Homo sapiens: one gene and its partner. The protein of the gene in region 1 purifies or fractionates together with the protein of each later gene. This does not show direct contact. Each region holds a gene or a part of one and is shown on either strand. Other genes may lie near its edges.

What was found.
Region 2: the proteins of SCO1 (region 1) and NELFB fractionate together in Homo sapiens (co-fractionation; one large-scale study listed by BioGRID). This does not show direct contact.

What each region holds. Positions count from the first base shown.
Region 1 is NC_000017.11:10,683,694-10,687,774, reverse strand, and holds part of SCO1 (protein SCO1 homolog, mitochondrial), read left to right. Parts: intron 1-932; coding exon 933-1,048; intron 1,049-4,081. UniProt on the Homo sapiens protein: Copper metallochaperone essential for the maturation of cytochrome c oxidase subunit II (MT-CO2/COX2). Not required for the synthesis of MT-CO2/COX2 but plays a crucial role in stabilizing MT-CO2/COX2 during its subsequent maturation.
Region 2 is NC_000009.12:137,268,537-137,272,326, forward strand, and holds part of NELFB (negative elongation factor B), read left to right. Parts: intron 1-3,544; coding exon 3,545-3,686; intron 3,687-3,790. UniProt on the Homo sapiens protein: Essential component of the NELF complex, a complex that negatively regulates the elongation of transcription by RNA polymerase II.

The DNA.
Region 1 (4,081 bases):
GATGTAGTCATTACTAGTTGCATTTTGGGGAGATTTTTAAAACTTTAATTTGGTATTTAGAAAAAAATGCAGTTTCAGCAATTTAGTTTTAAAAAAAGTTTGAATGTGCAGCTAACTCAGGCTTCATTCACCTTTCTCTTTATTTACTCAGAGTGGAAAAAGAAAGCCTGTCTTTTCAGAATCTGAACAATGTCTCATTTAGAATGATGAGTTCATCCAAGGAACAAAAATTGGCTTCTGTACCTTTAGAAAAAGGAACTGCTGTTAAATGTTGGGCTGTCATTTCAGTAGTTTGATGAATCCAGTTGTTTTAAGTGACCTCTACCGGTTCACTTACATGAATTCCAAAAACTTAATAGCAGATACACGCTGTGAATGATTTGCCCTTATTTCAGAACTTTGTTAAGATTGCGTTTTGGGGATGACTAGTATTAATTAACCAGTTTTTTTAAATCAGAAGTAAAGAGTAGAACTTGATACCAGTGTTGAAATTATTTGCAGGAAAATAAGACACAGGTATTTTGACCTGATATGAACTTAGTTATGAAGCAAATTTTTTTCCCCATATGATGCCATGAAAAGTTATAGTATTTAATTTATGATAATAATTTTAAGCTTTAGTATATCTGAGAACTACATGTGACTACTCCTTAAAAATCAATTTAAAATGTGATACAAGTGATTAGAAAATATTCCCTCCAGGTCTTTACTAGATAGTCATAAAAAGATTTGACTTATATATTACAAAGGAGAATTTTCATTTGTTCTTTGTGAATTTCTTCTCCTTTTCCTTTGAATCGTGAAGAAATGTTTGGAGACTCACAGGAAGAAAGTGGCAGTAGAGCTGCTTTACAACTGATACATTTTTTGAAGTAGAGATGGTTGTTTTACTGGCTTCTCATTTTTCACTGTCTCTCTCATTTTTTATTTAGAATTTTCTCCCAAACTGGTTGGCTTGACTGGCACGAGAGAAGAGGTCGATCAAGTGGCCAGAGCATACAGAGTGTATTACAGCCCTGGCCCCAAGGACGAAGATGAAGACTACATAGTGAGTAAATGTTCCAGTTTTAACCCATGGACCAGCTCCCAGATCCCAAATAGTCATAAGGCTTTCAATGACTGACTAGCTTCTGAGAAGAGAGAATACCTAAGATTATTGCAAAGTCCTTAGGAATTTTTTTTTTTTTTTTTTTGAGATGGAGTCTCATTCTGTCATCCAGGCTGGAGTGCAGTGGCACAATCTTCGCTCACTGCAACCTCCGCCTCCCAGATTCAAGCAATTCTCCTATGTCAGCCTCCCGAGTAGCTGGGATTACAGGTGCGCGCCACCACACCTGGCTACTTTTTTATATTTTTTGGTAGAGACGGGGTTTCACCACGTTGGCCAGGCTGGTCTCGAACTCCTGACCTTACCCGCCTCAGCCTCCCAAAGTACTGGGATTACAGACGTGAGCCACCGCATCCAGCCTCCTTAGGAATTTTGAATATTTGAAAGGATAATAGAAGCATGTTTTTTACTTTTTATTTATTTTCGAGACGGAGTCTCACTCCGTCAGCCAGGCTGGAGTGCAGTGGTGCGATCTTGGCTCACTTCGACCTCCGCCTCCCGGATTCAAGCAATTCTCCTCCCTCAGCCTCTCGCGTAGCTGGGATTACAGGCATGTGCTCCCACGCCTGGCTAGTTTTTGTATTTTTAGTAGAGAAGGAGTTTTGCCATGTTGGCCAGGCGAGGCCAGGGGGTCTCGAATTCCTGACCTCAGGTGGTCTGCCCTGCCCACCTCAGCCTCCCAAAGTGCTGGGATTACAGGCCTGAGCCACTGCGCCCAGCCAGAAGCAGTTTTTTAAAAGATGATTGTTTGATTTATATTCACTGTTCTCATAATTCAATTGCCTGTTTTTCTCTTATAGTGGCATATAGGATTTTAGGGCAGTTTAAAACCAGATACTTGGGTGCCATGTTGGAAATAAAGAGAAGCCATCATTTGGAACAACACTTATTTTAAAAAGATTGTGTTGGTTCTCACTGTGTCCCCAGTAGAGGTATCAGAAATTGCTCTTCTGGAGAACCAGTTTTAGGCCATGGAGAACTGCATTTTTAGGTTGAATGAGAATTCTGAAAAGCAAAAGATGAAAGGTTTATTTGCCCATTGACTATATGCCTTGGACAGTTAGGCGTTAAATATGTGCTTTTTAATGATAAGGAACAGAAATTCTGTTGTACTTGTGTAGCTCTTAAATTAACTATCTTCATATTCATCAGCACTGCCCCAGAAGCCTTAAGGTCATGCCCAAGTTACTGTGTTTCTTTTCTTGTCAGTGGTTTCACAGTGAAGCACCAAAAGGCATTAGCACCACCACTATCCACCAATTTTCCTCTCAATTTGGACATTTTTCTCCTATCATATGAAGAGTCGGCGTTGTATTTTAGCATTATTTCAGTATTTTTCTTAGTTGTCATACTCTGTTTTTTCTATAATATTGTTTGGGCAGAGTAATCCTAAGAGCCTTTCTAGCTGTGAAGCTGTCTTTGTAGAAAGAAAGATGGCCAAGACCCTGAGTCACTGATCCAGCAGCTCCCCATGGCCCATCCCAAGAGTTGAGATGCAGAGGGGATGGGATGTCTCACTGCAGTGCTTTGTCTCAACAGCCAACTATGATTTCTTTGTCCCTTTGAACCTGGAACGTGTGTGCCCCTGGAGCCTACAGCCTGAATTAAAAGCAAGGTTCTGGCCTGTTTGCCTTAATTAAGCCTACACAGTAATCCTGTCTTCCAGATGTGGTGCCTCGTAGAATTAGGGAAACTTGGATTCCTTGGAGTAAAAGATGAGAAAAATGAGCACTTTTCTTTAAGCCTTAATTGTAAGGAAAGTAGAGGGACCCTCCTCTGTTTTCCTCTTGCTGCTTCTCTAGCAGAATGAGAGAAGAGCAGAGAGCCACAGTGGCCAAAAGAGGAAACCATAGGAAAAGGACTTTCCGGACTTCTGTCTTTATAGAGAGTTGTATTAACTGGTTTTGAGTTTATCCGATGATGACAGCAGGAATAGATGAGCTCATCAGTCTGATTTCCAGCATTAAATGAGTTATATTAAATTGTTTAAATGTATACAGTCCTAAACTAGGTAACACTCCATAGTCTTGATGCTTAGAACTCATAACTCAGAGTCAGAAAGTCAAATCAGAAAGCAGTTGTACAAATAAACCCAAACAGCCTGCAAAACTTAAATTGAAAACATTCAGTTACATTGACAAGAGATTTTGCTGAAACCAAAGTGCTGCTCAGGGCAAGAAGGGAGGGGGTTTTGGTCAGACTGCTATCACATACCCAACTCTACTCAACTGCCCCTCTGCATTTTCTATTTAAAATACTTTGAAACCTTTAATCGTGTAGCCTGCCTTGCCTGGTTAGTGTTGATTTGGCAAGAATGTATCATATTCATGTCTGCCTGTAACAGCAGTGGGCAGCTAGGTGCCAGTGAGATCATGGAGCAAACACAAGCCTGGGCACTGAAATTTATACTCACAACACAGATAATCCAGAATATGGATATTAATGTTTTTAATTACAAATGAAAACAAAAATATGTAAGTCTTATGGAAACTTCTTGGACCTTGTAGAATGTATCTTTGGCCCCATTTTGAGAAATACTGGCCTACTGCCATAAGAATTTGACTTTTGATGAGATTCGATGAGGAATTCATGCTGTACATTTGCTAAATCATCCAATAGGGGGAGACATTCTTCAGCTTCTTAGGTTTTTCATTAGTATGACTTCAGTCCCTTGAGGTCACAGATTTTCATCCATAGGATGGTTTGGGAAACTTCTGTTATCATTTAAGGACCTGCAGGAAGTAAGGGGGTACCTTTAAGGTTAATGTTGAGATGTAATGGAATGAAGTTTTCTTAATCCCAAACGACAGCAACAACAGGCAAGCTTCTGGCTTTTGAGTGGACTCTTCAGAGTGATCGAACTGGGTATACCAAATATTTGGAATTCCATAGAAAGCTGGATCTGCACATTATTGTATTATATATATATAATACTATATTATTATATAGATATTAGTTAGAAAATACTTTTGA
Region 2 (3,790 bases), on another chromosome or scaffold:
GATTGCACTATTGCACTCCAGCCCAGGCGACAGAGCGAGACTCCGTCTCAAAAAAACAAAGAGCAGGGACTTCTCCCAGTTCTGCGGGCTGGGATGGGAAGTCCGAGGTCAAGGGGCCTGCATCTGGCTGGGGCTTTTTGCTGTGTCATCCCATGGTGGAAGGCAGAGGGCAAGAGAGCACGGGCAGGGGAGACAGACAGACACAGACAGAGATGAGAGACAGAGACACACAGACCAAGATGAGAGACAAAGATGAGAGACACAGAGACAGAGATGAGACACAGAGAGATGAGAGACAGGTAAGAGAGACAGAGACAGGAGAGACATGGAGACAGACAGATGAGAGACACAGGACAGAGACAGATGAGAGACAGAGCTAGAGATGAGACACAGACAGACGGAGACAGAGAAGGGGCCACACTTACCCTTTTATCAGGAGCCACTCCTGTGCTAACAGCGAGAACGCTTTGGTGAGGACGGAGCCCTCACGACCTCAGCAGTGTTGCGTTGGGGATCAGGTTTCCGATGGTGAACTTGGGGACACGTCCACACCACAGCACGTGCCTATTGTGTTTCTCGGTGGCTGGTGTGTTTGAGGATGGCGCGTGCATGCGTTTTCCAGCTTTCTTTGTGGAGGAAGTTACCTGTGGGTATTAACCTGTCCCCAGCCATCCTCTCACTGAGCTTGGGTTGCCTGGGCCTGGGTTTCCTGTTGTTGCTGGAACGAATGACCACAGACAGTGGCATTAGACAGCGCAGGCAGACATGACCTCCTGGGCTTCTGCGGGTGCCAACACTGCCGCTCCTTCTGGAGGCTCAGGGAGGCTCTTGAGGGCATTGGGACATCGTGCTGCCGGCCGCCGGGCAGAGCCGGTTTGTTTATTTTTTGAGACTTCCGGGAACATAGTTATAAATAACTTTAATTTGCCTTGGCCTGCCCACTGCAGTACAGTCACGTGTCACATAACATTCTGTCTACCGTGGACCACATATACGACCACGCGGTCACATAAGCTGACAATACTGTATTTTTACTCCACTTTCTCTATTTAGATACACAGTTGCCATTGTGTCCCAGCAGCCTTCAGTACTCAGTACAGCCATGTGCTGTGCAGGTGTCTAGCTCAGGGGCATGAGGCCATGGCCCAGCCCAGTGTGCAGTGGGTGGCACCTTCTGGATTTGTGTCAGTCACTGTGGAGTTCGCACAATGACAGACTCACCTGGGAGGCCTTCCGTGCGCTTCTGTTTCTTTCTCTCATTTGATTGTGGCTAGAAACAGGCTGGGAACCAGGAGTGCAGCTTCTCGGAGTACGTGGCTGCCCCACGGGGTGGGATGTGCATTTTCAGTCACATTTGGGGAGAGCACGCGTGTTCTTAAGTTTTTAGCGGGTTCTAGTAAGAATGGATGTTGATTTTTAGAATTCTCTCCTGTTTATTTTTTAACATTTTGTGGTGGGAATTTGTGAAAGAATACGAAGTCAAGAGCATGGTACGGTGAGGACCCAGCACCATCTCCAACCTCCCCGGGGTCCACGTGGGGTCTGCGTGTGGCCGCCTGTCCCTCAGCACGATGTCTGGGTGTAAATCTGAGACATCACAGCATGCAGGCTGCAGACGTAGGCATCTCTACAAAAGAAGGATGCGTTTACAGGAGAATCGCTTGAACCTGGGAGGCAGAGGTTGCAGTGAATCGAGATCACGGCACTGCCCTCCAGCCTGGGCGACAAAGCCAGACTCCGTCTCAAAAAAAAAAAAAAAAAAAAGGGCGGGGAGCCGGGCTTGGTGGCTCATGCCTGTAATCCTAGCACTTTGGGAGGCCAAGGCGGGTGGATCACCTGAGGTCAGGAGTTCCAGACCAGCCTGGCCAACATGGTGGAATCCCATCTCTATTAAAAATACAGAAATTAGCCGCGTGTGTGACGCATGCCTGTAGTCCCAGCTACTCGGGAGGGTGAGGCAGGAGAATCGCTTGAACCCAGGAGGCAGAGGTTGCAGTGAGCCGAGATTGCACCACTGCACTCCAGCCTGGGTGACAGAGCGAGACTCCGTCTCAAAAAAAACAAATAAAAAATAAGACTGTCTTTAAATGCCTTTAAAAAACTGGCCAGGCATGGTGGCTCACCTTGTAATCCCAGCGCTTTGGGAGGCCGAGGCGGGCGGATCACCTGAGGTCAGGAGTTCCAGACCAGCCTGGCCAATGTGGCGAAACCCCATCTCTACTAAAAATAGAAAAATTAGCCCGGCGCGGTGGCGCACGCGTGTAATCCCAGCTGAGGGAGGCTGAGGCAGAAGGATCGCTTGAACCCGGGAGGTGGAGGTTGCAGTGAGCTGAGATTGCACCGCTGCACTCCAGCCTGGCTAACAGAGTGAGACTCTTCTCAAAAAAAATAAAAACCAGTGACCACGGACCACGGGCCACTGTCACATCTGAGCCAGGTTCACTGCCGCTCCTCTGCCGACTGACTGCCTGACAGTGGCTGCGCTTCTCCAGGTGTCTCCTGCCTGCTGTGTGGACGGTCCCGTCAGGGTTGGGATGCGCCTGCTGTCCCCTCTCCTGTCTCGCAGTCTTGGGTTCCCCGGAGTTGCAGGAATCAGGGCATTTGCCCAGTGGGGCCTTGCTGCTGGATCCCCTGGTCGGGACTGTGTGCCTGCCACGTGTCCCGTGGCCACCTGGCCATGTGGCCGGCCAAGGCCCTGTGAGATGTGGCAGGCAGGCACCTCGGGGGCCTGGGTCTCCTGGAAATGTTTCTGTCACTCTGGGCGCAGGTGGCGCCAGCTGGGTTGTCCTCATAAAGGCCCCATCCGGGATACTAGGAAGGCCATCCTCAACCTGTCCGCACACGTCACCTCCATGTGGCCTGGCCACAGCTCCTTCAGGCATCAGTCTGCAGGCGGCCGCCCTCCCTCCCTGCAGGGGCCCCGTTTGGGGCGTTGTGCTGGCTCTTGGCAAATGTCTGCCAACACCGTGGCTTCTGTGCTGTGGTCGCACGTGAGGCGTCTGTGGGCACGAATGCTGTCTTTGTTGTGTTTTGGTGTCTGGCTTCAGAAAAGAATGTGGAAGAGTTTCGTTCTCTTTCCTGTGGTTCAGTGTAGCTGGCAGTCAGGGAGAACTCTCTGCAGCTGGCGCCGGCCCTGTATTTGTTAGGCTTGTTTCTCCTGGGCTCGGCTGCTGGGCAAGGCCTTTTGGGACTGGAGGAGCACCTCGTTTTTCTGTCTCCTTCTTCCTCCACCCTCCTCCTGTCCCCGGGCTGTCTCCCCCTCCCTCCACCCTCCTCCTGTCCCTGGGCTGTCTCCCCCTCCCTCCACCCTCCTGTCCCTGGGCTGCAGCTCTGCTTCCCTGCCACAGGTCCCACCCCCTGCCTGCCTCTGTCCACTTCCCACCCCCCTCTTCACCTGCTGAGACCCTGTGCTTCTCATCTCAGAACAACTGAGAACTCTCATGTGAGCACCCCCAGAAGTAGGTTCTGAGGTCTTTGAGGACAAGGGTGCCCTCTGGGGTGGGCAGGGTGAGTGGCACTGGGCTGATGCCTGCTGTGTCTGCAGTGGAGACCTTTGGCGACTTGGCCTTTGGCGACATCTTCCTCCACCTGCTCACGGGCAACCTTGCGCTGCTGGCCGACGAATTTGCCCTTGAGGACTTCTGCAGCAGCCTCTTCGATGGCTTCTTCCTCACCGCCTCTCCAAGGTAGGCCTGCTGGGTACCATCCGGCCCGCTCTGTCCTCTCAGCTCTTGTCCGTAGCAGCCTGAGAGGTGGCTGCTGTCCCCAGCCTGGGGCGGAGGGTCCGCAG